2 separate regions of the Homo sapiens genome follow, and region 1 is linked to region 2. The links come from fine-mapping of genetic effects on gene expression. A gene starts in region 2. The other region holds a variant in brackets. All regions are shown on one strand. Distances are between the middles of the regions. Region 1 has its middle 22 kb from the start of GCNT1. Region 2 holds the start of RFK (riboflavin kinase).

Evidence for each region. PIP is the estimated chance that this variant, and not a neighbour inherited with it, causes the effect.
Region 1: its variant is fine-mapped to the expression of RFK in whole blood (INTERVAL, PIP 0.98).

Annotation. Positions count from the first base shown.
Region 1 is chr9:76,429,813-76,445,090 of GRCh38, forward strand. It overlaps a transcript of GCNT1 not described here. Among named protein-coding and RNA genes, the nearest start is that of GCNT1, 22 kb to the right of the region's middle. RefSeq lists an enhancer at 9,029-9,118. The variant G/A (reference allele first, on the strand shown) is at 6,926.
Region 2 is chr9:76,386,516-76,401,793 of GRCh38, forward strand. RFK (riboflavin kinase) reads right to left here and starts at 7,911. Exons shown (of 4, transcript NM_018339.6): 1 at 7,575-7,911; 2 at 5,903-6,054; 3 at 2,039-2,141; 4 at 1-1,014. The coding sequence starts at 7,656. The coding sequence ends at 884. It also overlaps a transcript of GCNT1 not described here and the pseudogene RPSAP9. RefSeq lists silencers at 2,538-2,832, 7,360-7,849, 7,890-7,969, 7,990-8,049 and enhancers at 7,182-7,995, 7,858-8,152, 8,330-8,569.

The DNA.
Region 1 (15,278 bases), 43 kb after region 2:
CCTGCCATCCTCCTGCCTCAGCCTCCTGAGTAGCTGGGACTACACGCACCCGCCACCACGCCCGGCTAATTTTTTGTATTTTTATTAGAGATGGGGTTTCACCATGTTAGCCAGGATGGTCTCGATCTCCTGACCTTGTGATCTGCCCGCCTCGGCCTCCCAAAGTGCTGGGATTACAGGCGTGAGTCACCATGCCCAGCCTCAAGCCTCTATTTTCATCACATTTGCAAATGTCCCATTAGCCAAAGCAAGGCACATGACCAAGCTCAGATTCAAGGGGCAGAGAAATATACTCTAGCCTTTGGTGGCAAAAGAGACAAAATTATATAGTAAAGCGTTATGTATACAGGAATGGGAGAAATAGGTGGCTGTTTTTTTGCAACCTACTATATACTGGCAGTGGGTGAAAGTTCTATTTCCCTACATTCTTGACAACACTTGGTATTACATGACTTTTAAATTTTTTGCCAATCCGAGAAGGATTTAAAAAATCTCATTATTGTTTCTATTTTAATTTGCATTTTTCTGGTCATTAGTAAGGTTGTATATCTTTTCACATAATTATTGACAGAACACTCATTTTTTTTTTAACAGGGTTTCACTCTGTTGCCCAGGCTGGAGTGCAGTAGTGGGATCATGGCTCCCTGCATCCTTGACCTCGGGGGCTCAAGTGATCCTTCCACCTCAGCCTCCTCAGTAACTGGGACTAAGGGTGCTTGCCACCATGTTCGACTAATTTTTTTTTTTTATTTTGGTAGAAATGAGGTCTCACTATGTTGCCTAGGCTGGTCATGAACTCCTGAGCTCAAGCCATCCTCCTTCCTTGGTCTCCCAAAGTGCTGGGATTACAAGAATGAGCCACTGCACCTGGTTAGTCCTCTTTTTTTTTGAGACCAAGTCTCACTCAATGGCCCAGGCTGAAGTGCAGTGGTGCAATCTCAGCTCACTGCAACCTCCGCCTCCCAGGCTCAAGTGATTCTTGTGCCTCAGGCCCCTGAGTAGCTGGGAATACAGGTGTACACCAAACCACACCCAGCTAATTTTTGTAATTTTAGTACAGATAGGGTTTCACCATGTTGGCCAGGCTGGTCTCGAACTCCTGACCTCAAGCAATCCACCTACCTTGGCCTCCCAAAGTGCCGGGATTACGGGCATGAGCCACTGTACCTGGCCTCATCTCTTAAAGTAACATGCACACACATACACAGGAAAAAGAATGAAAGAATATATATTGGAGTAGTTCAATTTGGGTAGTGGAGTTACAGATGATTTTTATTTTCTCATATCTAAATTTTCTAAAATGAACATCTGTTACAGAGGGAGGAAAGTAAATGAATATGTTAAAACGTCCTGGCAAAATCCCCAACTGGGCTAACAATAACTAGGTGCACTGAAATTTAGTTCTGACACTAACCACATGGAGTTAGCATCAGACTCCACAAGGTAAGGCTCAATCCTCCACAAGACTGCCCTCACATCAGATGCCAGCCCTTAGCAGGGACCCCAGGTCATCCATACTCTGACCTACTCGCTACAGATTTGGGGGTCCCATGATCCACTCAGTTTCAGTAACTTGCTAGGACAACTCACAGAACTCAGGAAAGTGCTACACTTATGATTATAATTTTATTATAAAAGTTACGCATAGGGTGAGGTCTGGGAGAGAACACAGAGCTTTCTTGCTCTCTCCTCTTGAAATCAGGAAACATCACCCTCCTAGCACATCAATGTGTTCACCAACCCGGAAGTCCCACTGAGCCTCCATGACCAGAGTCTTTTATTGGGGTTTCATTATCTAGGCATGATTGATTTAATCACTGTCCACTTGATTGAACTCAATCTCCAGCCCCAGTCGCCTCTTTGGAAGTCGGGAGGTCAGGCTGATATCAAAGCGCCAACCCTCAAATTAAGCGGTTGGTCTTTCCAGTGACCAGTCCCCTAGCTGTAGCCATCCAAGAGCCTGCCATTAATACCTCATTAACACAACAAAGACTCCTATCCCTTAAGAAATTCCAGGCCAGCCACGTTGGCTCATGCCTGTAATTCCTGCACTTTGCGAGGCGAGGTGGATGGATCAATTGAGGTCAGGAGTTTGAGACCAGCCTGGCCAGCATGGTGAAACCCCATCTCTACTAAAAATGCAAAAATTAGCCGGGTGTGGTCATGGGCACCCATAATCCCAGCTTCTTGAGAGCCTGAGGCAGAAGAATCGCTTAAACCCGGGAGGCAGAGGTGGCAGCAAGCTGAGATTGCACCACTGCACTCCAGCCTGGGCAACAGAGCAAAATTCTGTCTCAAGAAAAGGAAAAAAAAGGAAAGAAATTCCAAGGGTTTTAGAAGCTCCTTGCCAAAAGCATGAGACAAAGACCAAATTTTTTATTGGGTGACCTAAATATATTACATTTAGTATATTACATAAAATACATTACATCTAGTCCAAAAAAAATGTAGGCAATCCAAATTAAAATTGTCTAGTGAAAATATGGGCAATTGAGTCTTAAAATGTCTAATATCTAGTTTAATATATTTGTTTGTTTTTTGTTTTTTCAAGACAGGGTTTCACTCTGTTGCCCAGGCTCAAATGCAGTGGTGTAATCATGGCTCACTGCAGTCTCAACCTTCTAGGCTCAAGCGGTCCCACCTCAGCCTCCAGAGTAGCAGGGACTACAGGCACGCAGCACCATGTCTGGCTTATTTTTGTATTTTTTATAGAGACAGGGTTTCGCCATGTTGCCCAGGCTGGTTGAGAACTCCTGAGCCTAGGTGATCCGCCTGCCTGGGCCTCCCAAAGTGCTGGGATTACAGGCGTGCTCCACTGTGCCCATCCTTAGTTTAATATTGTCTTTCACATACTGATAGCGGTAGGAGGCAGTCAAATGACTAGGCAGATGGGGTGGATCCCTGGTAAAACCCCACCTTCAAGCCAAAGGCAGTTTAAAGCCTGAAAGCCAAGCTAAAAGTCTTGCATAAACATAGGAACTGGATTGAGAATCTCTTTCTATTTGTCATGCTTTCCTTTGATTGATCCTCACCCTTCACCTATTTTATATATACCTTCTCTTTCCTAATTGTTTTTTTACAGTCGTGCTCACCTTTGAACGGTGCCTTTGTTTTAGGCTTTTTTGGATACTCACAAACCAATTAGCATGCACTCCTGCCTTCTGAGCCCACAAAAGCCCCATACCCAGCCACACTGAGAGAGAGACCACCCGACCAAGTGGGAGACCACCCTTGTGGCCCCTCTCTACTGAGAGCTGTTTCATTAGCTGTTTCATCACTCAATAAAACTCTTCTCTGCCCTCCTCACCCTTCAATAGTCAGCATAATCTCATTCTTCTTGGATGCGGACCAAGAACTTGGGACCCCTCCGAATGCAGGTACAAAGACGACAGTAACACTGTAGCCCTCTGCCCTGCCCCCTCTTCGGAGCTCAGCAGTTGCCCCACGTAACGGAAAGCAGCAGGGCCAGGTCATCCCCAAACCTGTGGGCTGGAGTGGGGCAATGGGACTGACAGAACTGTTAACGTGCCCCTGTTCATCAGGCTGTGGAGGAACTAAAACAGCTGTTAGCACACTGTAACACCCCCTCTGGGGCTTTGGGGTTGCAGGTTTTGCTGTTTGTGTGCCACGGCGTACCCCTCATCTGTATGCTGGAGTCCACCATGGGAGTCACTTGCCACATGCCTGGGCCAGCCACTAGCCCCACATGTAGACTGCTCCTGTGCTGGCCTTTGGAGAGGCCAGCCAGACCCTGGACTCACTTGCCCACACACCCCCTCCTGCCAGGGGCTGAGTGCTGCAGTCGCGGTGGCCACAGGATCCATGCTGGAGTGCAAGCCAGGCACAGTTTGGCAGGCTGAGTGGGCAGGGTGCCTCTTGCAGGGAGCCCTGGGCTGAGGGAAGCCTGGGCAGGGGTATCACCGGCTGGAGGTTTCCTGCTGGCAAGGTGGTTGAGAAAAATCCTGTGTCAGTACCAGATAGTAGGATGTGTGATGGATTTAAGACAATAGGGGATTCTGACCCTTCTACTTTCTAGTGGCTGTGACTTCAGCCCTCAGTTTGTTGTCCTTCAGTGAACCTCCTCATATCCCTCAATTGTTGCAAAGTGCCACTGAGCTGATGCCTGTGAAAGAGCTCTGTAAAATTCAAAGTTATATAAAAATAATACAGCAGTTCCTCCTTATTCTTCGGTTCACTTAATCTATAACCTAAGAAGTAGAAGTTACAACTACATGCTGCATGACTCAGATCAGAGTCACATCTCTCTCAAGGCTTATAGTGTTTGGGGGATTTCAACAGCTTTTACATTTTATTTTCACATTATGCATAGGAAAAAGCATAGCACTTACAGGGTTCAGTACTATTAAGGATTTCGAGTATCCACTGGGGGTCTTGGAACGTATCTCCTGTGGATAAGGGGGGACTAATGTAGTATGATTATCATCATCAACAGAAGCTATGACACCAGGATAAATAGGCTAGAGAGAGCTCTCTGAGCCATAGGTCATGTTCAGGACTCACTATTGTGGGAAGTCAGGGACCCCGAATGGAGTGACTGGCTGGAGCCATGGCAGAGGAACATAAATTGTGATTTCATGGACATTTATCACTCCCCTAATAATACTTTTATAATTTCTTATGCCTGTCTTTAATCTCTTAATCCTGTTATCTTTGTAAGCTGCGGATGTATGTCACCTCAGGACCCTGTGATGATTGTGTTAACTGTACAAATTGATTGTAAAACTTGTGTTTGAACAACATGAAATCTGATTGTAAAACATGTGTGTTTGAAAAATATGAAATCAGTGCACCTTGAAAACTAACAGAATAACACCGATTTTAGGGAACAAGGGAAGACAACCATAAGGTCTGACTGCCTGCGGGGTGGGGCAAAAAGAGCCATATTTTTCTTCTTGCAGAGAGCCTATAAATGGATGTGCAAGTAAGAGAGATATCGCTAAATTCTTTTCCTAGCAAGGAATATAATATTAAGACCCTAGGAAAAGAATTGCATTCCTGGGGAGAGGTCTATAAACAGCCACTCTGGAAGTGTGGTTGAGATAAGGACTGAAATACGCCCCGTCTCCTGCAGTACCCTCAGGCTTATTAGGGTGGGGAAGAAATCCCACCCTGGTAAATTTGAGGTCAGACCAGTTCTCTGCTCTCGAACCATGTTTTCTGTTGTTTAAGATGTTTATCAAGACAATACGTGCACAGCTGAACATAGACCGTCATCAGTAATTCTAATTTTGACCTTTGCCTTGTGATCTTTGCTTTTGTCCTTGCCCTGTTTCCTCAGAACCATGTGATCTTTGTTCTCCCTTTTTCCCTTTGAAGCATGTGATCTTTGTGAGCTACTCCCTGTTCATACAGCCCCTCCCCTTTTAAAATCCCTAATGAAAATTTGCTGGTTTTGCGGCTCGGGTGGGCATCATGGACCTACTGATATGTGATGTCACCCCTGGCGGCCCAGCTGTAAAATTCCTCTCTTTGTAGTCTTTCTCTTTATTTCTCAGACTGGCCAGCAATTATGGAAAATAGAAAGAGCCTACGTTGAAATTTTGGGACCAGTTCCCCCACTGGTCCCAAATTCAGCCTCAAGAAGACTGAATTAGTCAGCTCCCACTACCATAACAAGTTACCACAGACTCTGTGGCTAAAACAACAGAATTTATTTCTTCACAGTTCTGGAGGCTAGCAATCCAAGAATAAGGTGCCAGCAAGTTTGGTTTCTGGTGAGGCTTCTCTTTCTGGTTTGTTGATGGCCATCTTCTCACTGTGTCTGTCCTCTTGTGTGTACCCACAAAGAGAGAGAAAGAGTTCTTAGGTGTCTTTTACTCTTCTTACAAGGACACTGGTCCTATTGTATTAAGGTCCCAGCCTTATTACCTCATTTAATGTTAATTACATTCTTAAAGCCCTATCTCCAAATACAGTCACATCAGAGGTTGGGACTTCAACATATGAATTTGGGGAGGGACACAATTAGGTCCATAACAAAGACCATAATCTTGAGTGGAAAAGAGTCCTAAGATTAGGGTTTTCACACAGTGAAGGGTCTTAAATTTATTGGTACATTCAATCCTGGAGCACTTCCTTTAGTAAGAATGACAGAGTGCTAAGCAGTAGTTCCCATATCTTTTTTTTTTTTTTTTTTTTTTGAGACAGAATCTCGCTCTGTCACCCAGGCTGGAGTGCAGTGGCACGATCTCGGCTCACTACAACCTCTGCCTCCTGGGTTCAATTCTCCCTCCTCAGCCTCCCCAGTAGGTGGGATTACAGGCATGTGCCACCATGCCTGGCTAATTTTTGTGTTTTTAGTAGATATGGGGTTTCACCATGTTGCCCAGGATGGTCTTGAACTCCTGACCTCAGGTGATCCACCTACCTCGGCCTCCATCTTATAAGAAAACATCTGTGTAACAAATTAGGATAGGGTTGTCCAAAGGGTGTTTGAGGAACATACCTTCCACAAGTGGTGGGAATTTGGGGGAAATTACACCATTTCCCTGCTTAGAAAGTCACAATGCCTTGGGAGGCAGAGGCAGGCAGATCACTTGAGGTCAGGAGTTCAAGATCAGCCTGGCCAACATGGTGAAAGCCCATCTCTGCTAAAAATACAAAAATTAACTGGGCATGGTGGCATGTGCCTGCCTGTAATCCCAAGTACTCCAGAGGCTGAGGCAAAAGAATCACTTGACCCTGGGAGGTGAAGGTTACAGTGAGCTGAGATCGCACCACTGCACTCTGCACTCCAGCCTGTGCGACAGAGTAAGATTCCATCTCAAAAAAAAAAAAAAAAAAAAAAGGCACAATAGCATATTAAAAACTGAAAATTTCGTCCATTTACTCAAATAACATTTATTGATTTATTGAATGCCTACTATTTTCCAGTCACAAGCTGTGAGTAAGACAGGAATTAATA[G/A]GAGCAACCTAACCTAATATAGGAAGTAAAGGCAATGGATAGTTGAATGCTGACTCCCTCAAAATGGATGGATAGCACCAGGCTTAGTTCAGTGCTTGTTGAGGTAAGAGAGATTGTCAGACAGAAAACCAAACACTGCATGTTCTCACTCATAGGTGGGAATTGAACAATGAGAACACTTGGACACAGGGTGGGGAGCATCACACACCAGGGCCTGTCGTGGGGTGTGGGGAGGGGGAAGGGATAGCATTAGGAGATATACCTAATGTAAATGATAAGTTAACGGGTGCAGCACACCAACATGGCACATGTATACATATGTAGCAAACCTGCACATTGTGCACATGTACCCTAGAACTTAAAGTATAATAATAAAAAAAGAAAAGAAAAAAATAAATATATGGGGAAAAAAAGAGAGAGAGAGAGATTGTCAGAAACATGTGAACAAGAGCAACTCCATCTTGAATAGGAGCTGGGTAAAATAAGGCTGAAACTTACTGGGCTGCATTCCCAGACGGTTCAGCATTCTAAGTCACAGGATGAGCTGGGAGGTCGGTACTTAGATACAGGTCATGAAGATCTTGCTGATAAAACAGTGTGCAGTAAAGAAGCCGGCCAAACCCCACCAAAACCAAGATGGCAATGAGAGCGACCTCTGATTATCCTTACTGCTACGCTCCCACCAGCGCCATGACAGTTTACAAATGCCATGGCAACGTCAGGAAGTTACCTTATATGGTCTAAAAAGGGGAGGCATGAATAATCCACCCTTTGTTTAGCATATCATCAAGGAATAACCATAAAAATGGGCAACCAGCAACCCTTGGGGATGCTCTGTCTATAGAGTAGCCATTCTTTAGTCCCTTACTTTTCTACTATACTTGTTTTCACTTTACTCTATGGACTCGCCCTGAATTCTTTCTTTTGTGAGATCCAAGAACCATCTCTTGGGGTGTGGATCAGGACCCCTTTCTGGTAACAAGATCATTTTCATAACAAGAGTCTTACTGGCTTCTTGGAAGGGTGAGGGCAAAGCAGAATATTTATTAGGTTTGTGGAATCTGGAGTAAGGTGGCTATTTTGATATAGAGCTTGATTAGGATTGGACAAGTATGTGACACAATGGTTTAGCATTGGTGGACACAGCAAGGTGAGAGTTCCCAAGCATGTCTTAAAGAGTAAATGATCTTTTGATTGTATCTATTTTCCTTGGAAAGTGGTACTTACTTTAATGAGGATAAATTGAGTAGTCTAGTGTTTGGACTAATGGATTTTCAGAAAGTTCCTAGAACAAATAAAATTTTTGTCCATTTGAACCCAAAAGTATCTGAGACAGGTCTCAAGCAATTTAGAGACTTTATTTTGCCAAGGTTAAGGACATGCCTGTCACACAGCCTCAGGAGGTCCTGATGACATGTGCCCAAGGTGGTTGGGGTACATCTTGCTTTTATACATTTTAGGGAGACATAATGCATCAATCAATACATGTAATATTTACGTGGGTTTGATCTGGAAAGGTAGGACAACTCAAAGGGAGGTGTGGGGGGTGGCTTCCAGGTCATAGGTAGATTTAAAATTTTTCTGATTGGTAACTGATTGAAAGAGTTATCAGTAGAAAGGAGACACGAATGTCTGGGTTATAATAAGGTGTTGTGGAGACTAAGGCCTTATCAGGCAGTTGAAGCTTCTCAGTAGCAGACTTTGTAGAGAGTAGACTGTAAACTTTTCTTATCAGACTTAAGGTCTGTGTTGATGTTAATGCTGAAGGGGTATAATGAGGCATATGTGAGCCTCTCTTCCATCATGACTTGAATTAGTTTTTCAGGTTAACTCTGGAATGCCCCTGACTGAAAGGAGGGGTTCATTCAGATGATTAGGGGAGCTTAGAATTTAATTTTTTGTTTACAGCCATTTCATCCTTCTGAGTAAAAATTTCCTGAAATAAGAAAGTCAGGTAAATGTACCAGGGGTTTCCAATCTTTTGGCTTCCCTGGGCCACATTGGAAGAAGAATTGTCTTGGGCCACACATAAAATACACTAACATTAATGATAGCCAATGAGAAAAAAAAAAAAAAACTCATAATGTTTTAAGAAAGTTTATGAATTTGTGTTGGGCCTCATTGAAAGCCCTCCTGGGCTGCATGCAGACTATGGGCCTTGGGTTGGACAAGCTTGATAGATAGTAAGCCGTGTATGTGTGGGCAGTAAGTTTTGATTTCTCTAAAGAATCTTAACTTCCCTTACACATTTGACCACAACACTCTTTTCTTTTCTCGTCAGACTTATTAACATTTCAAAGAACAGACCATGATAAAACATGAAAGTAGGAAATAATTTCTATGAGAGTGTTGTAAGCCAGTGGTTCTGAAAGGGTGGTTCCCAGACCAGTAGCTTCAGTATCACCTGGGAACTTGTTAGAATTCCTCACCTACTAAATCAGAAACTCTGATGTGCAGTCAGCAATCTGTGTTTTCTTTTCTTTTTCTTTTTTTTTTTTTTTTTTTTTGAGACAGTCTCACTCTGTCTCCCAGGCTGGAGTGCAGTGGTGTGATCCCAGCTCACTGCAACCTCTGCCTCCCAGGTTCAAGTGATCCCTCCACCTCAGCCTCCCTTGTAGCTTGGATTACAGGTGCGTGGCACCACGCCAGGCTAATTTTGGTATTTCTAGTAGAGATGGGGCTTCGCCATGTTGGCCAGGCTGGTCTGAAACTCCTGACCTCAGGTGATCTGCCCAACTTGGCCTCCCAAAGTGCTAGGATTACAGGCGTGAGCCACCATGCCTGGCCCCATTTGTGTTTTTAAAAAGGAAAAGAAAAAATGAAAAAAAAATTTTGTCTGCATTTCCTTAGTAGAGATGGAGGTAAATCAGTTGTTGGTAAAAGCTGTGTGCGTCTTTCTTCAGATTGTGACTCATATTCTTATGGCTCTCTCCTCTTTGAATTCTTTGAAAACAGTGCTCTCCTTGCACTAATATGAATGCAATAGTGAGGAATATAAAATTTATTCAATATTTTAGAAGGAAGCTAGAAGAGAGAAGTTGTACCACATGATATCAAGATTGCACTTAAAAATAAACCAAGGCTGGGCGCATTGGCTCATGCCTGTAATCCTAGCACTTTGGGAGGCTGAGGTGGGCAGATCACCTGAGGTCAGGAGATCGAGACCATCCTGGCCAACACGGTGAAACCCTGTCTCTACTAAAAATACAAAAAATTAGCCGGGCTTGGTGGTGGGCACCTGTAATCCCAGTTACTTGGGAGGCTGAGGCAGGAGAATCGCTTGAACCCAGGAGGCGGAGGTTGCAGTGAGCCGAAATCCCACCATTGCACTCCAGCCTGGGCAAGAGCGAAATTCCGTCGCAAAAATAAAAAAAAAAAAAAAGAAAAAATGAATAAACTAACAAACCTTTTGAGGTATCTCATGTCCCAAATCTCTCTTCTTGGCTCAGCATCTCTTCCTGCTCCTGACCCACATCACCTTCTCTCTGAATTTTCTTCTAAGAGCAGTTCAGTTCAATACCCACATGACTTTCAAAAGTCTTAACCTCACCTACTAGTTAATATAATCTTCAAGGAATTTAAAGGAATTAAATTGAAGACTTTGTTTGCCTTGTGAACAAAAAATTCCCCAGTTGCCAGGTTTCACTAAAGCTGTGATGAATGAAGGTGACATCAATCTACATTTCCCTGATTTATATTTGCTCCACAGGTGAGGAGGAAACCTGGGTTACAGTGGTACCATGTTTCCAGTGTGTCCTCATCAGATTCCGGTCCTTTTCACTATGATGTTGCAACCTGTGTGTCCCCCTGCCCTGTGTGGGGCTGAGGTCCTGCACCCACCTGTCCTGTCTCCTTCCTGATGGTTGCTAGGACCAAAACCCAGAGGGGAGAATGAGCTGCACTCACAGGGGATGACTTGGGGACTGGGTCCAGAAAGTGGCTCATCCACAAGAGCTTGTTTAGAGCTACCTAAGAGGAGTCTTCCCTGGTCCCAGACTTGGTTGCACGTTAGAATCAGCTGGGGAGCTTTTAAAAATGCCTATGCCTGCCGGGTGCAGTGACTCATGCCTGTAATCCCAGCACTTTGGGAGGTTGAGGCGGGTGGATCACAAGGTCAGGAGATCAAGACCAGCCTGACCAACATGGTGAAACCCCATCTCTACTAAAAATACAAAAATTAGCTGGGCATGGTGGTGCATGCCTGTAATCCCAGCTACTGAGGAGGCTGAGGTAGGAAAAATTGCTTGAACCCGGGAGGCGGAGGTTGCAGTGAGCCAAGATCACACCACTGCACTCCAGCCTGGGCAACAAAGAGAGACTCCATCTCAAAAAAAAACAAAAAAACCTATGCCTAGGCCACATTCCATAGCAATCACATCAGAATCCTTGGTGCAGGACCTAGGCATCAGGATTTTTGTTGTTGTTTGAGACGAAGTCTTGCTCTGTCACCCAGGCTGGAGTGCAGTGGCGCGATCTCAGCTCACTGCAACATCCGCCTCCCGGCCTCAAGCAATTCTCCTGCCTCAGCCTCCAGAGTAGCTGAGACTACAGGTGCCCACCACCATGCCTGGCTAATTTTTTTATTTTTAGTAGAGACGGGGTTTTACCATGTTGGCCAGGCTGGTCTCAAACTCCTGACTTCAGGTGATCTGCCTGCCTCGGCCTCTCAAAGTGCTGGGATTACAGGCATGAGCCATCACCACTCTCAGCCAGCATCAGGATTTGTTAAGGTTCCATAAGTAATTCCAGTGGGTAGCAATGGTGAGAACCATCAGACTAGATGATGTACAAAAAGTCCACATTATGCTAAGACATTATAACAATTTTGTTCAAAACACTTCACATAATTAAATGGGCTATATTTTCATCATAGTATCTGTTTCGTATGTGGGAAATTTGAGACACGAAGAAAGTGTGAGTCATACCAGACAGACCATAGGTGAACTGTTAAGGAGGGAGAAGCCGCAGTGTCACCTTCCACAGTCCTGCTCCCATTAAGACCTATGAAGTGGAAAATGCAGATTATTCTTTGAGGTTTCCTGGGACCAGAAAAGGTCAGAGACTCTTAATGGGTAATGCAGACAACTGGAATGCAATCATCAGGTATTCATTTCTGTTTTAAGGTTTTATGTCTGAGAAACCTGAAACCTGAAGAAGTAAAGCAATCATGATTTTTTAAAAACTTAATAATATGGTTTTGGATTTAAAAAGAAAGACTGACTCAGAGCTGGGGAAAACACTCACTTGTGATACGGATCAATGTGAAAACAGCTTAACTCTGTTCCATGGCAATTCGCACAGTGTGACTCAGAGACACCTCTCTTCACCAGCTCTGGCTCAGGGGATGTGAAGCCAGAAGCAGAGGTCACAGTGACTTCATCTGAGAAGGACTTAACTGACCATTGCTGGTTTTGAAGCCGGAGGAAGGCCCACAGTCAATGAATGAGAGAGGCTTCGAGAAGCTAGAAATGGCAAGGAAATAGATTTTCCTCTAAAGCTCCCAGAAAGAAACACGGTTCTGCTGACACCTCGATTTTAGGCCAGTGAGACCTGCTTCAGACTTCTGACCTACAGAACGGTAAGAAAATAAATTTGTGTTGCTTATAGCCATGCTGTGTGTGGTAGTTTGTTACAGCAGCAATAAGAAACTAACACAGTTGTGACCAGGCGCCATGGCTCATGCCTGTAATCCAAGCACTTTGGGAGGCTGAGGTGGGCGGATCACTTGAGGTCAGGAGTTCGAGACCAGCCTGGCCAACATGGCAAAACCCTGTCTCTACTAAAAATACAAAAATTAGCTGGGCTTGGTGGTAGGCGCCTGTAATCCCAGCTACTTGGGAGGCTGAGGCAGGAGAACCACTTGAACCCGTGAGGCAGAGGTTGCAGTGAGCCAAGATCATGCCACCGCACTCCAGCCTGGGCGACAGAGTGAGACTCCATCTCAAAAAAGAAAGAAAGAAACTAACACAGTGGTTTTATCTGATTATCCGATTATCAGAAGTAGTAAGAGAAATGTGAAAATGGTTCTTAAGTTACAAAGTACCATATGAAGATAAAGTATTCATTCATTTATTCTCTTATTTATTCATCAAATATTATTGAGCTCCTCCTACTTTGAGCCAAGCACTTTTATAGATGTTGGGAATATACTAAAGCCAAAATGGATTTAAAACAAAACAAACACTGGCCAGGCTCAGTGGCTCATGCCTGTAATCCCAGGCTGTATGTGGGGCATGAGAGGAAGCAGGAGATGTCAGGTGAGATACAGCAGTAGCATGGCCCAAGGTGGTAGCAATGGAGATGGGTAAAAGGGATCCTAATCTGGATATATTTTGAAATAGAGGCCAGGTTCAATGGCTCACACCTGTAACCCCAGCAATTTGGGAGGCCAAGGCAGGCAGATCACTTGAGCTCAGGAGTTCGAGACCAGCCTGGCCAACATGGTGAAACCCCGTCTGTGAAGACCAGCTCGGTTGGGGAGACCCTAACCCAGTGGTGCTAGAGGAATTAAAGACACACACACAGAAATATAGAGGTGTGAAGTGGGATATCAGGGGTCTCACAGCCTTCAGAGCTGAGAGCCCTGAACAGAGATTTACCCACGTATTTATTAACAGCAAGCCAGTCATTAGCATTGTTTCTATAGATATTAAATTAACTAAAAGTATCCCTTATGGGAAACGAAGGGATGGGCCGAATTAAAGGAATAGGTTGGGCTAGTTAACTGCAGCAGGAGCATGTCCTTAAGGCACAGATTGCTCATGCTATTGTTTGTGGCTTAAGAATGCCTTTAAGCGGTTTTCCACCCTGGGTGGGCCAGGTGTTCCTTGCCCTCATTCCGGTAAACCCACAACCTTCCAGCATGGCTATTATGGCCATCATGAACATGTCACAGTGCTGCAGAGATTTTGTTTATGGCCAGTTTTGGGGCCAGTTTATGGCCAGATTTTGGGGGATTTGTTCCCAACATCCGTCTCTACTAAAGATACAAAAGCTAGCCAGGTGTGGTGGTGCATGCCTATAGTCCCAGCTACTTGGGAGGCTGAAGCAGGAGAATCGCTTGAACCTGGGAGGCGGAGGTTTCAGTGAGCCACTGCACTCCAGCCTGGGCAACAGAGTGAGACTCTGTCTAAAAAAAGGAAAGAAAGAAAGAAAGAAAGAAAGGAAGAAAGGAAGAAAGGAAGAAAGGAAGAAAGGAAGGAAGGAAGGAAGGAAGGAAGGAAGGAAGGAAGGAAGGAAGGAAGGAAGGAAGGAAGAAAAAAAGAGCCAGAAGCATTTGTTGAATTGGGTGTGTGCTTTGTGAGAAAGAGAGGCAAGACAGATGACTCCAGGAGTGTTTGGCCTGAGCAACTAGGTGGAGTTGTCAATGAGTAAGTCCGGGAGAAAAGTGGGAGAAGCAGGCTCCGGGAGAAGAAGATAAGGAGCTGCGTATTGGACATGTTTGTTTGAAATGCCAATTTTACCTGTAAAGGGAGATGTTTACTAAGCAGTTGGAAATATGAGTCTGGAGTTCTGAGGACAGGTCCAGACTAGAGATAGAAATCAGAGCGATGTCGAGGTTAAATCTAGATGTACTTAACAGCATGAGGTTGGATGAGGCCATACAGAAGGGCTGTAGAGAAAAAAGAAGAGATCTGAGGCCTGAGTCGTGAAGCTCTGCAGGGTTAAGAGGCCTGGGGGAAGAGGAGGAAACTGAAGGCTGACAAAGAGTGACGAGAACAAAACCATGAGGATTAAGAGTCCAGGTGAGGAAAAAGGGTTTCAAGGTCAAGGAGTGACGATTTGTCTGAAATGCTGCTGAGAGTACAGGTAAAACAAGTTTAGATAAATGTCTGCTGGATTTAGAACCACAGAGCTGAAATGGACAGGGGCAGTTTCCCTAGAGGCACGGGACTAAGCACCTGATTAGAGAGGGTTTAATATAATTTGGAGACACCAGATACAGGCAATTCTTTTGACACAAAACAATCAGGTTCTTCCAGAAACTCCCTTTTCTGTTTTCACAAGGAGGCTGATGCCCTCTTGGGCCCTCTGTGTTGTTCTGGAGACCTCAGCTCTTAGCCTGCTGAAGGCAAGGAACAGGCGACAACCACAGCACCTTCTTCCCTGACCACAGCAAGGGGGAATGAAGGTCAGTTTTCTATGAAGCAGGAGTCAGTAAACTGCAGCAAACTATGATCACACCTGTTCATTTACGTGCTGTCTGTGGCTGCTGTCACACTAGAGGGACACAGGTAAGAGGTTGTGAGAGAATAAATAGCCCACCATACTTCAAATATTTACTATCTGGCCCTTTCCAGAAAAGGAAAGCTCTGCTATAAGTAGAGAATTAGGGCAGTAGCTAAGGAGGAAG
Region 2 (15,278 bases):
GGAAAAAAGAACCAAAGAAAAATGTTGAAGAACAAGAATATTTACCATTAAAAAGAAGAAACATTATCCAACAAAAAGGAGACATATAGATTTGAAAACACTTATTTTACTGTCTTCAACAACAACAACAAACAGATAGGCAGGGGAAGTCCAGAGGACTCAGAATTGAAGCAGCTCTATACAATAATGAAGGTGGTACAATGATGTGACTGCAAAGAAAATGACTAAAACAAAACTTTACAAACATCTTCATGTTTGTAATGTATTAATGCACAAAATATCAAAAATAGAAAGTCTGAGTTTCTTCCCCGCAGGTTTATGATAAACTATCAACCTTCTATTTAATGCATTTCCTTTTTTTTTATTTATAGAGATGGAGTCTCGCTATGTTGCCCAGGCTGGTCTTGAACTCATGAGCTCAAGCAATCCTCCCACCTCGGCCTCCCAAAGTGCTGGGATTACCGGTGTGAGCCACTGCACTTGGCCTTAATGCATTTACTTTTATAAGCCTTCTCTGTTTAGAAGTACACACTACACAAGTACATACATGCTGGCATTTTACCATGAAAATTTTAGTTTTCATCTCAAACTAGTGACTTGCCTTTTTACCCATACTTATACACATGTAATACCTTTCTAGTGGTACATTTTAATCAATATATATTTTTTAAATCTTATTTTTAACTCAATCTTTTTAGTGCTATGATATGATGGGCTTAATTTAATAGTTGAAGCATGATATGATAACAACATTGTACGGTTTAAACTAATTCACAACTGTAGTAAAGTGTTTGATTTTCAGTATATAACCAAGATGATGCTGAACAGTAATAAACACAGAAACACTAGAAAACAGTGAATGAATAAATAATACAATTTTTCATCAGTGGCCATTCATTATTTTGCTTTTAGAAACCTGGAAGAAATTGTCTTCTTTGATTTTCAAATGTTCTGGTAACTCTAGTCGTTTCTTAGCTTCTTCAATATCACCTTGAATTGCTGAAATAAGTGACTCTGCAGAGAGAATATACCAGGTAAAAATGATGAAAAACCATTAACATACTTTTTACTACTACTCTGTTTAGCCAATCCTAAAAACTCACAGGCTGGCAGTATCTCTGCACAGGGTAGATACCCAATAAATGTTTGTTCCATCACTCCTTCCAGGCCTAAGTCAATGGTACACAAAAGATATGTCCCTAGGCCGGGGGCAGTGGCTCATGCCTGTAATCCCAGCACTTTGGGAAGCTGAGGCGGGCAGATCACCTGAAGTCCGGAGTTCGAGACCAGCCTGGCCAGCATGGTGAAACCTGACTCTACTAAAACTACAAAAATTAGCGGGGTGTGATGGTGGGTGCCTGTAATCCCAGCTACTCAGGAAGCTGAGGCAGGAGAATCGCTTGAACCTGGGAGGTGGAGGTTGCGGTGAGAGGGGGCGTCACTGCACTCCAGCCTGGGTAACAAAGAGCAAAACTCTGTCTCAAACAAACAAACAAACAAAGGTATGTCCCTAATCTTATATTTTAAGAGAAAGGCATAGGCATAAATGTACACTGCAAATATCAAATGGAGGAAAAAAGCATTCACTATTATTTTTGGTTGGTATTTACACTTGTAAAAGAAACTTTATAACAGAGTTAAAACTATCACACTACACTAATACATACCTGGTAACATGTTTCAAATGTTCTCTGATTTACTATATCTCAAACTTCACACATTTTGAAAGATTTCATTAACTTCATACCGCTGGAGAGAAGCAGCCAGCCTGCTAGGTTCAAAGCTAGACTCCGTTATTTACTATGTGACTTTGAGAATGTTACTTAATCTCTCTGTGCCATTTCCTCATCTGAGAAATAGGCAAAATAATCCCTCACAGGTGAAAGAAGATAGATTCACGTAAAGCACTTAAAACGGTGCCTGGCATATATTAAATGCTCAAATATTATCTGTCCTGCCATCATTATTACTGGTAGTAGTGGTAGAGTTACCTGTGGTAGCAGTAGTAGTATTTAAGAAGATCAAAATAAGAACTTACCTAAAGAATCAAAGTTCTTTTCTGGTCTCAGGTAGCCAACAATGGCCACATTGAGGATTTCCCCATAGAAGTCCTCTTTGAAGGTATGCATGATATGTGTTTCCTATAGTCAAGAAATGTTACAAAGAGTGCTATCAGACTACAGTGTACTGAAATCTGAAATACATCTTCATGTTTATGGTGAGTTAATTTAAATGAAACAATCAACACTCCTTAAACTTTTAAAGATTCAGGTTAAAATCTAAGTGCAGTTTTTCCTAAATTTTCCCAGCACTCCTGTTTGGATCTTATAAACCTAACTGAGTGAGGTGACAGTGTCTGGCATGATTTGCTGTTACTTAAAAACAAACAAACAAACAATAACAAAAAAACTGACACGTATCCAAGGAAGTAAGTATCTTATCAAGGTGAGAAAACAGGACACCAAAGAGGGAATGAGCAAAGTATTAAAAGATGTTACTACTAAACAACTAGTTGTTAAGGTCAGTCAGCATTTGCACACGTCTGACACACAACATGTATGGAAACTTCAGAGTTTGGCAGAGCTGAGGACTGAAGGGGCAGGAGAGCCAATGCAGCTTCCTGATCAGGGAGTAAAGTGGCAAAAGGGTACACAGCACATTAAAGCAAAATGCCGCATGACGTAGAAAGTGCCTCAGAATCTAGTTCAGCTAAATCATCTGGGCAGTACTGTGGTTAAGAGGTTAAGAGCACTGACTTAGAGTCAAAAGTCTGGGTTCCCACACTTGGTTAACTGTATAACTAGCTTCCGCGGGGCTCAGTTTTCTCGTCTGTAATGGGTGGGGGGCGGCTTGAGTTAGAAGATACATAAAGTGCCCCATGACTTTGGGGCTATGAACCAATATATTCTTTCTTTTCAGTAAACATTTGAATAATAAAAAAGAAACTAAGATATGTAAGACTGGTTGGGTGCAGTAGTTCATGCCTGTAATCCCAGCACTTTGGGAGGCGGAGCCAGGAGGATCACTTGAGGTCAAGAGTTCAAGACCAGCTTGGCCAACATGGTGGAACCCGGTACTCTACTAAAAACACAAAAATTAGCTGGGCATGGTGGCGCATGCCTATAGTCCCAGCTACTCAGGAGGCTGAGGCAGGAGAATTGCTCAAACCCAGGAGGCGGAGGTTGCAGTGAGCCAAGATCACACCACTGCACTCCAGCACTCTAGCCTTGGCGACAGAGCGAAGACTCCATCTCAAAAAAAAATTTAAAAATAATTTTAAAAAATATGTAAGACCCTGACACTGACAATTACAAGACATTATTGAGAGAAATGGCAAACTTCCCAAAGTAATCTACGAATTCAATGCTGCCCCAATCAAAATCCTAGCAGGTTTTTTAAAATAGGAGAAACTGACAAGTGATTCTAAAATTTATATGGAAAAACCAAAATTATTCATGAAAATCTTGAGAACAAAACTAGAGGGCTTATACAACTAGGTATCAAGACCTATGATAAGACAAGCAAACCAAGTATGTATGTGAATTTTTGGACTCACACACATATAAGGTCACTTGATTTATGTCCCAGGTGACACTACAGCACTGTTGTGAAAGCATGGTATTTTCAATGAATAGGCTGGGTCAATTCTACATCCATATGGAAAAAAATATTAATTTAAATCCCTATCAGATACCATACTAAAAAAGTCAATTTGAAGATATGTCAGTCAATTAAACTTTTAGAAAAAAACCACAGACAAGTATCTTCATGACTTTGGAGTAGTCAAAGATTTCTGAAACAGATTATATAAAGCACTAACTATAAAAAAAATATTGAACTGGATTGTATTAAAATTAAGAACCTCTGGGCTGGGTGCCATGCTCATGCCTGTAATCCTGGCACTTTGGGAGGCTGAGGCAGGAGGACTGCTTGAGCCCAAAAGTTTGAGACCAGTCTGTGTAACATGCTGAAATCTCATCTCTATAAAAAAATTTAAAAATAGCCAAGCATGGTGGCACATGCCTGTGGTCCTAGCTACTCGGGAGGCTGTGATGGGAGGATCACTTCAGCCCAGAAAGTTGAGGCTGCAGTGAGCTGAGATTGCACCACTGCACTGCAGCCTGGGTGACAGAGCAAGACCCTATCTGAAAATACAAAACAAAACAAAACTCTGTTCTTCAACACACCATTGAGAAAAAAAAAAAAAAAACCACACACACACACACAATGAAAGAAATTTGTAATACAACAATACACAGTTCCAACAAAGGAAGTGGATCTAGATGTGTTACTAAGAACTTATTTAAGGTCAGTAAGATAACGCTTTTTTTTTTTTTAAAGGACAAAGGTCTGGCACAGGCACTTCACAGATGTGTGTTACTGGCAAAGGCAAGCAAAAGTTCAATTTTCCACTGGTAAGATATGCCTATGTTTCAAATTCAATTTTTCCTAACACTCAAAAGGCATTCCTTAACTGGCTGTATAATAACATTTTTGTTATCTAAGTAGCTAAAGACAAATTAGTTATGGGCTATTGTCCCCTCCCCTTCTTTTCCTTCCTCATTCAACAGAATGGTATTTTGTGATCTTTCGATTGTTTTCCTTGTCTCCAAAAAATAATTTTCAAATCATTAATACTGAAAAATAACTGAAATACTGAGCAAAATGTTAAGTACTTCTGCGTCATTACTATTGCTTACGCCAGCATTTAGCTCTGTAGTTTTCCAGCAGTGACACACTTCACTTCTATTAACTCCACACAGAACAAAATTTAGCTTCACTGTAATTTGTTTTTGCCACACATTTGAGCTGACAAAAGATTCAGCCAAATCTAACAGATAAAACACTGAAGTTGTGGGGTCCTGTAAAGAGTAGGGCAGAAAAGTATACCCTCAGGTGGTTTAAAAAGGAAAGAGAAAAGCACCAATGTGGGACTGTATCAATAAGCACCATCCTCCATCCACCATCCATGTAGTAAACTGTTTTATCTTAAGAGGGTGACCAAGCGCAATTGATGCATGAAGTAAATGGTGAATGAAGTGCATTAATTGTGGCAAGCTCAATTTTATGAAACAGGCTTTTAAATCATTTTTATCTTTGGTCAAGTGAGTCTTTCACAGACAGCAATTATCAAAGTCAGTATTATAATTTTGGTTTGTAACTCCACTCTTTATTTTCTACATAATTTAAAAAATAAATGCATAAAAAAACCAATTATTAATCTTTGTTATTGGGTACCACAATGTATAAGGATGTAATCTGAGCCAGATGCAGGCAGTGGCATGTACCTATAGTCCCAGCTCTCTGGAGGCTGGAGGAGGATTACTTGAGCCCATGAGTTTGAAGCTACAGTGTGCTACAACCTGGCCTGTGAACAGCTACTGCACTTCAGTCTGGGCAACATAGTGAGACCCCATCTTTAAAAAAAAAAAAAAAGATGCAATTTCTGAGTTCTGTATGCTATTGAAATTAAGTTGGTATAAACTCAAATTAAACTTTTAGAATTTCAGGATGTTAAATATAAACCCCATGGTAACCACAAAGACAGTATCTATAGAAATACACAGAAAGCAATGAGAAAGGAATTAAAATGTCACTACAAAACAAAACAAAACAAAAAGCACACTACCACAAAAGGCAGTAATAGAGGAAATGAGGGACATAAAAGTTATAAGGCATATAAAAAACAAATAGCAAAACAGTAGATGTCCCTCCTTATCAGAAATTACTTTAAATGTAAATGAATTAAACTCTCCAATTAAAAGACAGAGATTGCCCAAAATTCCAGTATTTGAACTACGTTGTGATTACCACTGATAAGCTATTTCTGTAACGAATACTGTAATATATTATTCTAAGTCATCATACCATTTTCGGTTACAGAGCAAAATATAATGCTTACCATAGACTTCTTCGTATTCTTGTAATATGGGTTCCATCCTATGCTCACCACCATCTTATGGACATCTCCACTTCCAACACTGGCCCAACCATAGTAAATACCAGTGGATATATCAGCTGGAAGATTATCTACCACTTGCTCAGGAAAATTAGCTAAACAACAGAAGAAAATATTTTGAGTCTTACAAATTTCGTATTAAATGCCTGTAGCCGAGTGCAGTGGCTCATGTCTGTAATTCTAGGACTTTGAGAGGCCAAGGCAGGAGGCTCATGTTGAGCTCTGGGGTTTGAGACCGGCCCGGGTAACATAGTGAGATCTTACCTCTATTAAAAAATTAGCTGGGGATGGTGGCCTGCACCTATAGTCTAAGCTACCAGAGAGGCTGAGGCAGGAGGGTCAGTTGAGCCCAGCAGATGGAGGCTGCAGTAAGCTATGATCGCACTACCACTGCACTCCAGCCTGAGTGGCAGAGCCAGATTCTGTCTCAAAATAATAATAAGAAACAAACATTTGTAAAAATCACATGCAAGGCTAATGTAAATCATTACATTCACAAGACTCCTACAACTTTGCCTGTAAGTATCAATCCCATCCTTCCATTTTCCGGCTCAGATTTCCCTCTCCTATTCATGTGAATAGGTTATGAATAAAGTACCAGGTAAGTATATAAAGCTCTCCAAAAAAATCCATACTCTTTGAGTAGGATGCAAAAAACAAGTACCAGAGTAGATGGATTTTTTCAGATCTGTTCTTTCCTAACCAGGTACTGAATCACCTGAAAAGTTTCTTTCTTTTTTTTTTTTTTTTGAGACGGTGTCTCACTCTGTCGCCCAGGCTGGAGGGCAGTGGCACGATCTCGCCTCACTGCAGCCTCCGTCTCCTGGGTTCAAGCGATTCTCCTGCCTCAGGTTCCCGAGTAGCTGGGATGACAGGCACGCGCCACCATGCCCAGCTAATTTTTGTATTTTTAGCAGAGACGGGGTTTTACCATGTTGGCCAGGCTGATCTCGAACTCCTGAGCTCAGATGATCCGCCCGCCTCGGCCTCCCAAAGTGCTGGGATTACAGGCGTGAGCCACCACGCCCGGCCAAAGCTTCTTATTTTTCAAATACACAAGCTCAAGGCTGACTTAACAAGTCAAGACGCAGCTCTGGCATGTATTTCTAAGGATGAATTACAGTCAGGTCTCGATTATTGAAATTAATGTAGACAGACCAAGAAGGTTAGCTGACTCTCATTCAACTACCTATGTTATCATTTGGACATTACATAATTACAAATTAAAAACAAAACCACCTTAGACCCGGCTTGCGAGTTCAGCCGTTCTGGCCCACGTTACGTCTCTAATGGGCAAGACAAGCGCAATGCTTGACCAACTGTACCTTGGCTGGCCAAGGAGGCGTGAACGGGGAATCCTGCGATTCATCTCGGGCTTCCGGCCCTCACCACCCCTCAACCCCGTCCCCGCGGAGCTCGGAGCCAGAAGCAGGGACAAGCTCCCTCAACCGAGCCAACGGTCCTCCGCCACAGACAAGGGGATGCGGGAGGAGGAAGGGTGTGCTCTCTGCCCGCGGTCCGGAGGCCCCACGCCCCGGTCCCAAGTCCCCGGCTGCCGTCTCTCCCCGCTCCCCACGTGACCCGGCCCGGGGGACTCTGGCCGCCCTGCTCTCACCTGTGGGGATGCCCAGCTGCTTGGAGCCGCGGCCGAAGCCCCGCACCACTTGACCCCGGCAGAAGTAAGGCAGGTGCCTCATAATGCAGTCCGCTCGGGGAATGGGCTGCGGCCCGGTCTGCGCGTCCTGCGGAGCCGCCGTCGACGCGGCGCCCAGACCCCGGACCAGCCGGGGGACAGGAGCGTGAGCTCTGCCTGCCGCGGGGGCGCACCAGTGGCCGGACGACGCCGACCACAGGCCACTGCGAATCCCTGACGCCGCCGACCCAACAAATACCGCCGGGCGCCTGAGGAGCTGCGTCTCCGCTGGAGGGCAGCGGAGACAGCCGAAGTAAGTGCCGGGTGTGAGCGGGGTGGGGGGAGGGGGCGGCCCGAAGCGCAGAGCCGGCCTCCGCGCCGCCGGCGTGCGCTCCCTTCCTCAGCCGAACGCCTCGAGCCCGCTCGGCTTCCGTAGCCCCGCCCCATCATGGCCCCGCCCCGCCGCTGCCTCGCCCGGCTCCCGCCGCAAGCTCCCGCTGCAGGCTCCCGCCCCAGGCGCCTAATGTCTGGATCCCGGGCTTCGTTTCAGCCCCTGGCGATGGGAACTAATGTGGAAACCCCGTTTTCAGCCTGAGAGCCGCGAAAGCACAATTCTCGAACAATTCTGGTTTTTTTTTCTCCTTCCTCCTGTTCATAACAATCCGGAAGCCAAAGTGAGACGCTCTTTAGCTCCTTGGCAACCGCTGGGTTGAACGTCAGGCATCGCTCGTTCCGTTCGCTCTTTAAGTATTTATTAAAGCTCCAAAATTCAGCTCAAAGATCGCCTCTTCACAGAGGCTTTTCCTGGCCGCCCTACCAGAAGCGGTCGTCCTCCAGGACCACTGACCACGTTCTGGAGTTATTAATATATTCGAATGTAAGCTCCAAGGGAGAAGTCCCTGTCTGTGACGCTGTTAACCCCAGAGACTAGTGGAAGGTTACCGACATGGGCGGTGACTGTCCCCTCCAGGCTGTCTTCTTGACAATTTCACAAGCCCGATAACAGGCCGTCCCTCTACTGCAATGCAGATAGAGGCCTTCGTACCCTCGGAACTGTAAATACGCACGCTCCTAGGGAAGTAGCTCTGGGCTCACTCACAGGATATGCAGGGTGCAAGGTTATAAGAAGGTGCATCCTCTTAACGTCTCGAAGACAAAGAAGTTTTTTATTTATTTTTTTAAATTTTTAATCAATGGAATCCAGAGAAGTTTAATTTTTTTCTTTTTTGCTCTATACATTTGTATAAAATTCTGTGCAGACCGTGTAGTCTCTTTCTACCTTACATGTATGCATCTCTGATAAGATTTACCTGATATTAAATTTATGTTCTAGGCCAGGCTTGGTGGCTCACGCCTGTATTCCCAGTAGTTTGAGAGGCCGACGCGGGAGGATTGATTGAGCCCAGGAGGTCGAGGCTGCACTGAGCTATGATAACGCCACTGCACTCCAGACTGGGCGACACAGTGAGACACCCTCACCCCTTAAAAGAACTAGAGAAGAAGAAGGAAGGGAGGGAAGGGAAAGGAAAGGGGAAGGGAAAGTGAAAGGGAAGAAAAGGGAAGGGAAGGGAGAGAAGGACCCAAAGAAGCAATTATGGTCAGTTACTTATCTATACGGAATTAAACAAAGAATAATGAGAATAACGATAATAGTAATACCGGTAGTAAGAGTAGTAATAGCAAGTTGTGAAAAGCAATTAAGTTATCTGGAGAGGCTTAAGAGTTATTTTAGCAAGGTGTGTACAGGATTCTCTCACTCTTGACTCCCGTCCTTAATAAGAGTGCTGCATTCCTTCTAATATAGGGAGGATGTCTCTCATATGGTAATTTCATCTGCTTCTAAGAAACAGAAAAGAGGTCAGAATGATTTTTTTGTATCTATTGTTTTTCAAGTGCTTTTAATTCAAAATAGTCAATATGCAAGAATGGTATATTTTTAACTTCATCAGCAGTGATACACCTAATAAGAAAAGCCTGGAGGTGAGAACTTGATAAATCATCCCTGGGTCTTACGCCACTAAGCCCTAGGTTGCAAGAAGGTATGAGAATTAAATGAGATAAAATAATTAAATGAATCATAGGAGGTAAATGAGGAGGGGTGGTTTTAAGAATAGAGAAAATGCTAAGTATTTTTCACACTGTCTCATGTAATCCTCTCATCAGCTTTGTTGGAAAGCATTAACCTAAACGTATAAAAATGGGCGGGGCATGGTGGCTTACGCCTGTAATCCCAGCACTCTGGGAGACCGAGGTGAGCGGATCTCTTGAGCTGAGGAGTTCAAGACCAGCCTGGGCAAAATAGGGAGACTTCCGTCTATCCAAAAATTTTAAAATAAAAATAAGTAAGAAAGAGAGAAAAAAGAAAGAAAAGAAAAGAAACAAGAAAAAAAAGAAGAAAGGGGAAAGAAAAGAAGAGGAGAAAATAAGAAAGAAAATTTTAAAAATCAGCCAGGGCCTGGCACAGTGGCTCATGCCTGTAATCCCAGCACTTTGGGAGGCTGAGGCCGGTGGATCACTTGAGCTCAGGAGTTGGAGACCAGCCTGGGCAACATGGTGAAACCCCGTCTCTACAAAAAATACAAAAATTAGCCGGGAGTGGTGGCGCTCACCTGTGGTCCTAGATACCCTGGAGGCCGAGGCACAAGAGTCGCTCGAACCTGGCGGCAGTTGCAGTGAGCTGGAGATCACGCCACTGCACTCCATATGGGGCAACAGAGCGAGACTCTGTCTCAGCCAGGTGGTGGTGGCTCGTGCCTATAGCCCCAGCTACTTGGGAAACTGAGGAGTGAGGATCGCCTGAGCCCCAGAATTTGAGGCAGCAGTGAGCTGTGATTGAACCACTGCACTCCAGCCTAATGACAAAGCAAGACACGGTCACTAAAAAAATAAATAGGCCGGGCGCAGTGGCTCTTGCCTGTAATCCCAGCACTTTGGGAGACCGAGGCAGGTGGATCACCTGAGGCCAGGAGTTCAATACCAGCCTGGACAACATGGCAAAACTCGGTCTCTACTAAAAATACAAAAATTAGCCAGGCATGGCAGTGAATGCCAGTAATCCCAGCTACTCGGGAGACTGGGGCGGAAGAATCGCTTGAACCCAGGAGGCGGAGGTTGCTATGAGCCGAGATTGCTCCATTGTACTCCAGCCTGAGTGACAGAGCAAGATTCCTTCTCAATAAATAATACATAAATAAATAGATAGATTTAAAAAAAAAAAGGAGAGTCTTGTAGAATGTTTAAGATGGAGCAGTCAGGCTCCAATCTTTAAAACTACCATTTACATGTCAAGTCATATGGGTAATTACTGTGTTATCAGCATAGGATATAGAAGAAAGAATTTTTTTTTTTTTTTTTGAACCAGAGTCTCACTCTGTCACTCAGGTTGGAGTGCAGTGGCGCAATCTCGGCTCACTGCAACCTCCACCTCCCGGGCTCAAGTGATTCTCCTGCCTCAGCCTCCCGAGTAGCTGGGACTACAGGTTTATGCCACCACGCCCGGCTAATTTTTGCATTTTTAATAGAGACAGGGTTTCATCATGTTGGCCAGGCTGTTCTGGAACTCCTGGCTTCAAGTGATCCACCTTCCTCGGCCTCCCAAGAAGGAAGAATTCTGATCATTTTCCACCACCGCTCAATAGCGTTCAATGGCTCCTCCCCTCTGACTGAAGAATAAACCCTCCAAGAGTTGTACTTCTAAGAACTCCCATCAAGTACTCAATCTGTTGATCAAAGCAGACCCCTCCACCTTGCTTCAGAGGCCAAAGCATATGCTTCAAATAATTCAATAATTATTCTGTAGGCTATAGGATTTATAATTTTTCTTCTTCATTTGACTCCAAAAATATGCTACCTAGCATTCTCAGTAAATCTAGAGTTGAGAGTCTATGTGTCTTTGCCAAACTTACTGCTTTTAACCAAGGAAGTATTCTAAAACGTGTTTTTTATTTCCCCCTCTGAACTGCACTTGCACATCCTTTCAGCTGCCTGTAGGGAAAGAGTCCACTTCTCTGGTTTAATTTGTCTCTGTAGAAAGAAGGATCACAAATAAGACTAAAGAGAAAGTAGAACTGGCAGCTTGTGAGGGAAAAGAAGGCTTATTCTAAGTAAGCAATGAAAAATGAATCTGAAGAATTCTTAAAATTCAGCAATAAGAAAATAAGCAACTCAATTAAAAAATGAGCAAAAGATCTGAATAAGCATATGAAAAGATGTTCAACATCATATATCGTGAGGGAAATACAAATTAAAACAACAATGAGATACTACTATATACCAATTAGAATGGCCAAAATTCAGAACACTGACAACACCAAATGCTGGCAACCATGTAGAGCAACAGGAACTTTCATTCATTGTTGGTGGGAATACAAAATGGTACAGCCCCTTGGAAGATAATATGGCAGTTTCTTATAAAACTAAACGTACTTTTACTATGTTATCCAGAAATTGTGCTCACTTATATTTAATCAAATGAGGTGAAAACTTTTATCCACACAAAAACCTATTTGTTTTTGCTTTCCGCGCTACCTACAGAGGGGCCCATACGGCGTTGTTCTGGATTCCCGTCGTAACTTAAAGGGAAACTTTCACAATGTCCGGAGCCCTTGATGTCCTGCAAATGAAGGAGGAGGATGTCCTTAAGTTCCTTGCAGCAGGAACCCACTTAGGTGGCACCAATCTTGACTTCCAGATGGAACAGTACATCTGTAAAAGGAAAAGTAATGGCATCTATATCATAAATCTGAAGAGGACCTGGGAGAAGCTTCTGCTGGCAGCTAGTGCTATTGTTGCCATTGAAAACCCTGCTGATGTCAGTGTTATATCCTCCAGGAATACTGGCCAGAGGGCTGTGCTGAAGTTTGCTGCTGCCACTGGAGCCACTCCAATTGCTGGCCACTTCACTCCTGGAACCTTCACTAACCAGATCCAGGCAGCCTTCCGGGAGCCATGGCTTCTTGTGGTTACTGACCCCAGGGCTGACCACCAGCCTCTCACGGAGGCATCTTATGTTAACCTACCTACCATTGCTCTGTGTAACACAGATTCTCCTATGCGCTATGTGGACATTGCCATCCCATGCAACAACAAGGGAGCTCACTCAGTGGGTTTGATGTGGTAGATGCTGGCTCGGGAAGTTCTGCGCATGTGTAGCACGATTTCCTATGACCACCCGTGGGAGGTCATGCCTGATCTCTACTTCTACAGAGATCCTGAAGATATTGAAAAAGAAGAGCAGGCTGCTGCTGAAAAGGCAGTGACCAAGGAGGAATTTCAGGGTGAATGGACTGCTCCAGCTCCTGAGTTCACTGCTACTCAGCCTGAGGTTGCAGACTGGTCTGAAGGTGTACAGGTGCCCTCTGTGCCTATTCAGCAGTTCCCTACTGAAGACTGGAGCGCTCAGCCTGCCACGGAAGACTGGTCTGCAGCTCCCACTGCTCAGGCCACTGAATGGGTAGGAGCAACCACTGACTGGTCTTAAGCTGTTCTTGCATAGGCTCTTAAGCAACATGGAAAAATGGTTGATGGAAAATAAACATCAGTTTCTTAAAAAAAAAAAAACCTATTTGTTTTTACCCCAATCCATTTTTACCCCTACTCCCACTGAATGCAAATGGAATGGATGAATGGATGTTTTATTTCTATTTTATTTTATTTTTATTTTGTTTCACATGGATGTTTATAGCAGCTTTATTCAGAATTGCCAAAACGTGGAAGCAACTGAGATGTCCTTCAATAGGTGGGATAAACAAGCTGTTGTATATCCATATAATGCCATACTATTCTGTGCTAAAAAGAAATGAGCTATCAAGCCACAAAAAGACCTAGAGGAAACTTAACTGCATATTACTAAGTGAAAGAAGCCAGTCTGAAAAGGCTACATAACACATGATTCCAATTATATTACATTCTGAATAAAACTATGGAGACAGTAAACAGATCAGTGGTTACCAGGGTTTGGGGAAGTTGGAGGTCGGAGGGAGGGATGAATGTGAAGCACAGGGGATTTTTAGGGCAGTGAAACTATTCTGTATGATACTGTCCTCATGAATATATGACATTATGCATGTATCAAAACCCATAGAACTATACAGCAACAGCAGCTGCCAACCTAAAACTGCTCTAAAAAGTAGAGTCTATTAGTTTTTGAATAATTAATCTAAAAATTTCTGACTTGGAGTCTGACATCAACGTTCACACCTTCCACACCTAAATAGTTACCAAGTCTCTCCCAATCCATTTTTACCCCTCCTCCCACTGAATGCAAGCCATGACCCCTTACCTGCACAGGTGTAGCCAACTCTATTCTCCCAGCCTTAGATTTGACACTAGTCTCTCTCTACTGCTTTTTCGTGCTGCTATAACCTTTCAAATGCCAATCTGATCAAATCACACTAAAAGTCATGTTCTGCTTCCCTCTGTCTTAGGATCAGTCTAAACTAAACCATTGTTCACAGATTCTCCCTATCACACTCCTCAGCTCCTGCCTCTACATTCTCTACCCAGAAGCCCTAGGGAACTTTACCAATTCCTCTAACTCACTCTTTGGACTTCATATAAACAGGCTTCCTAGCATGAGACAATGCTACCAGTAGGCCAGAGAGCAAGGGAACCCTGTGAGTCAGGTATGCTTGACAATGCCTTCCAGAGAGGTGGGACTTGAGCTGGAGCCTTGGGGCATGTGTGAATCGACTAAACAGAGAAGAGGAAAGAAAAATGTCTAGCTAGGGAGAGTTCCTGTGATCATATTTCCAAGAAAGGGATGTGCAGTAAACAAGCCAGAACTACTAAGCTCTACTGAGAGGTGATAGAGCTTAGTAGTAGGTAAGGGGGACTCTGGCTCTTACACCAGTTTCCTGTCTGTGAGAAAATAATCACCATAGCACCTCATAAAGCATTTGAAAGATTTAAGACTTAATGCATGTGAAGTAACTAAATCAGTGTGTAATGTGTAGTAAGCCTTCTGTATTGGCTGTTATGATGATGATTACCTGTTGGTCTGCTATAGAAAATTCATTATAACTGGACTACAGTCCAAATAAGCTGGCTGAGTGTAAGTGTCTTCAGAATTCTACCTTGGAAAACAGACATGTAAAATTCTACATAAAAGCCCAATATAGAAAATAAATAATGTTTTATTTATTTATGTATTTACATATTTATTTTAGAGATGGGATCTCGCTATGTTGCCCAGGCTAGAGTGCAGTGGCTATTCACAGGCAAGCTCATAGCACACTATAGCCTCGAAATCCTGGAATTAAGCCATCTGCCTGCCTTGGCCTCCTGCATAACTGGAACTACAGGTGTACACCACCATGCCATAAAAACAAGTGTTATTTTATAACCACAAATGTATTTGTGGTTCAAACTCATAAAATTTACTTCATGTAGTACAAATTTACTCAATAAGAACACATTAATGAAGTTTACAGTGTAAAGAAAGAAAACTAATTTTTTTCCTCACCCCTAATGCGTTGTTAGAAGGGACCCCCTGTAACAAAAAACAGATTATCAAAGCAAGAGCAAACATGTTTATTATCATGTATATTTTATATGTATATGGGAGATGCCCAGGGAATGAATAATTCTCAAAGAGGTGACTCAGACCTCTAGCTTATATAAACTTCAATAAAGAACATTAAGGACCAGCACAGTGACTCACTGCTATAATCCCAGCACTTTGGGAGG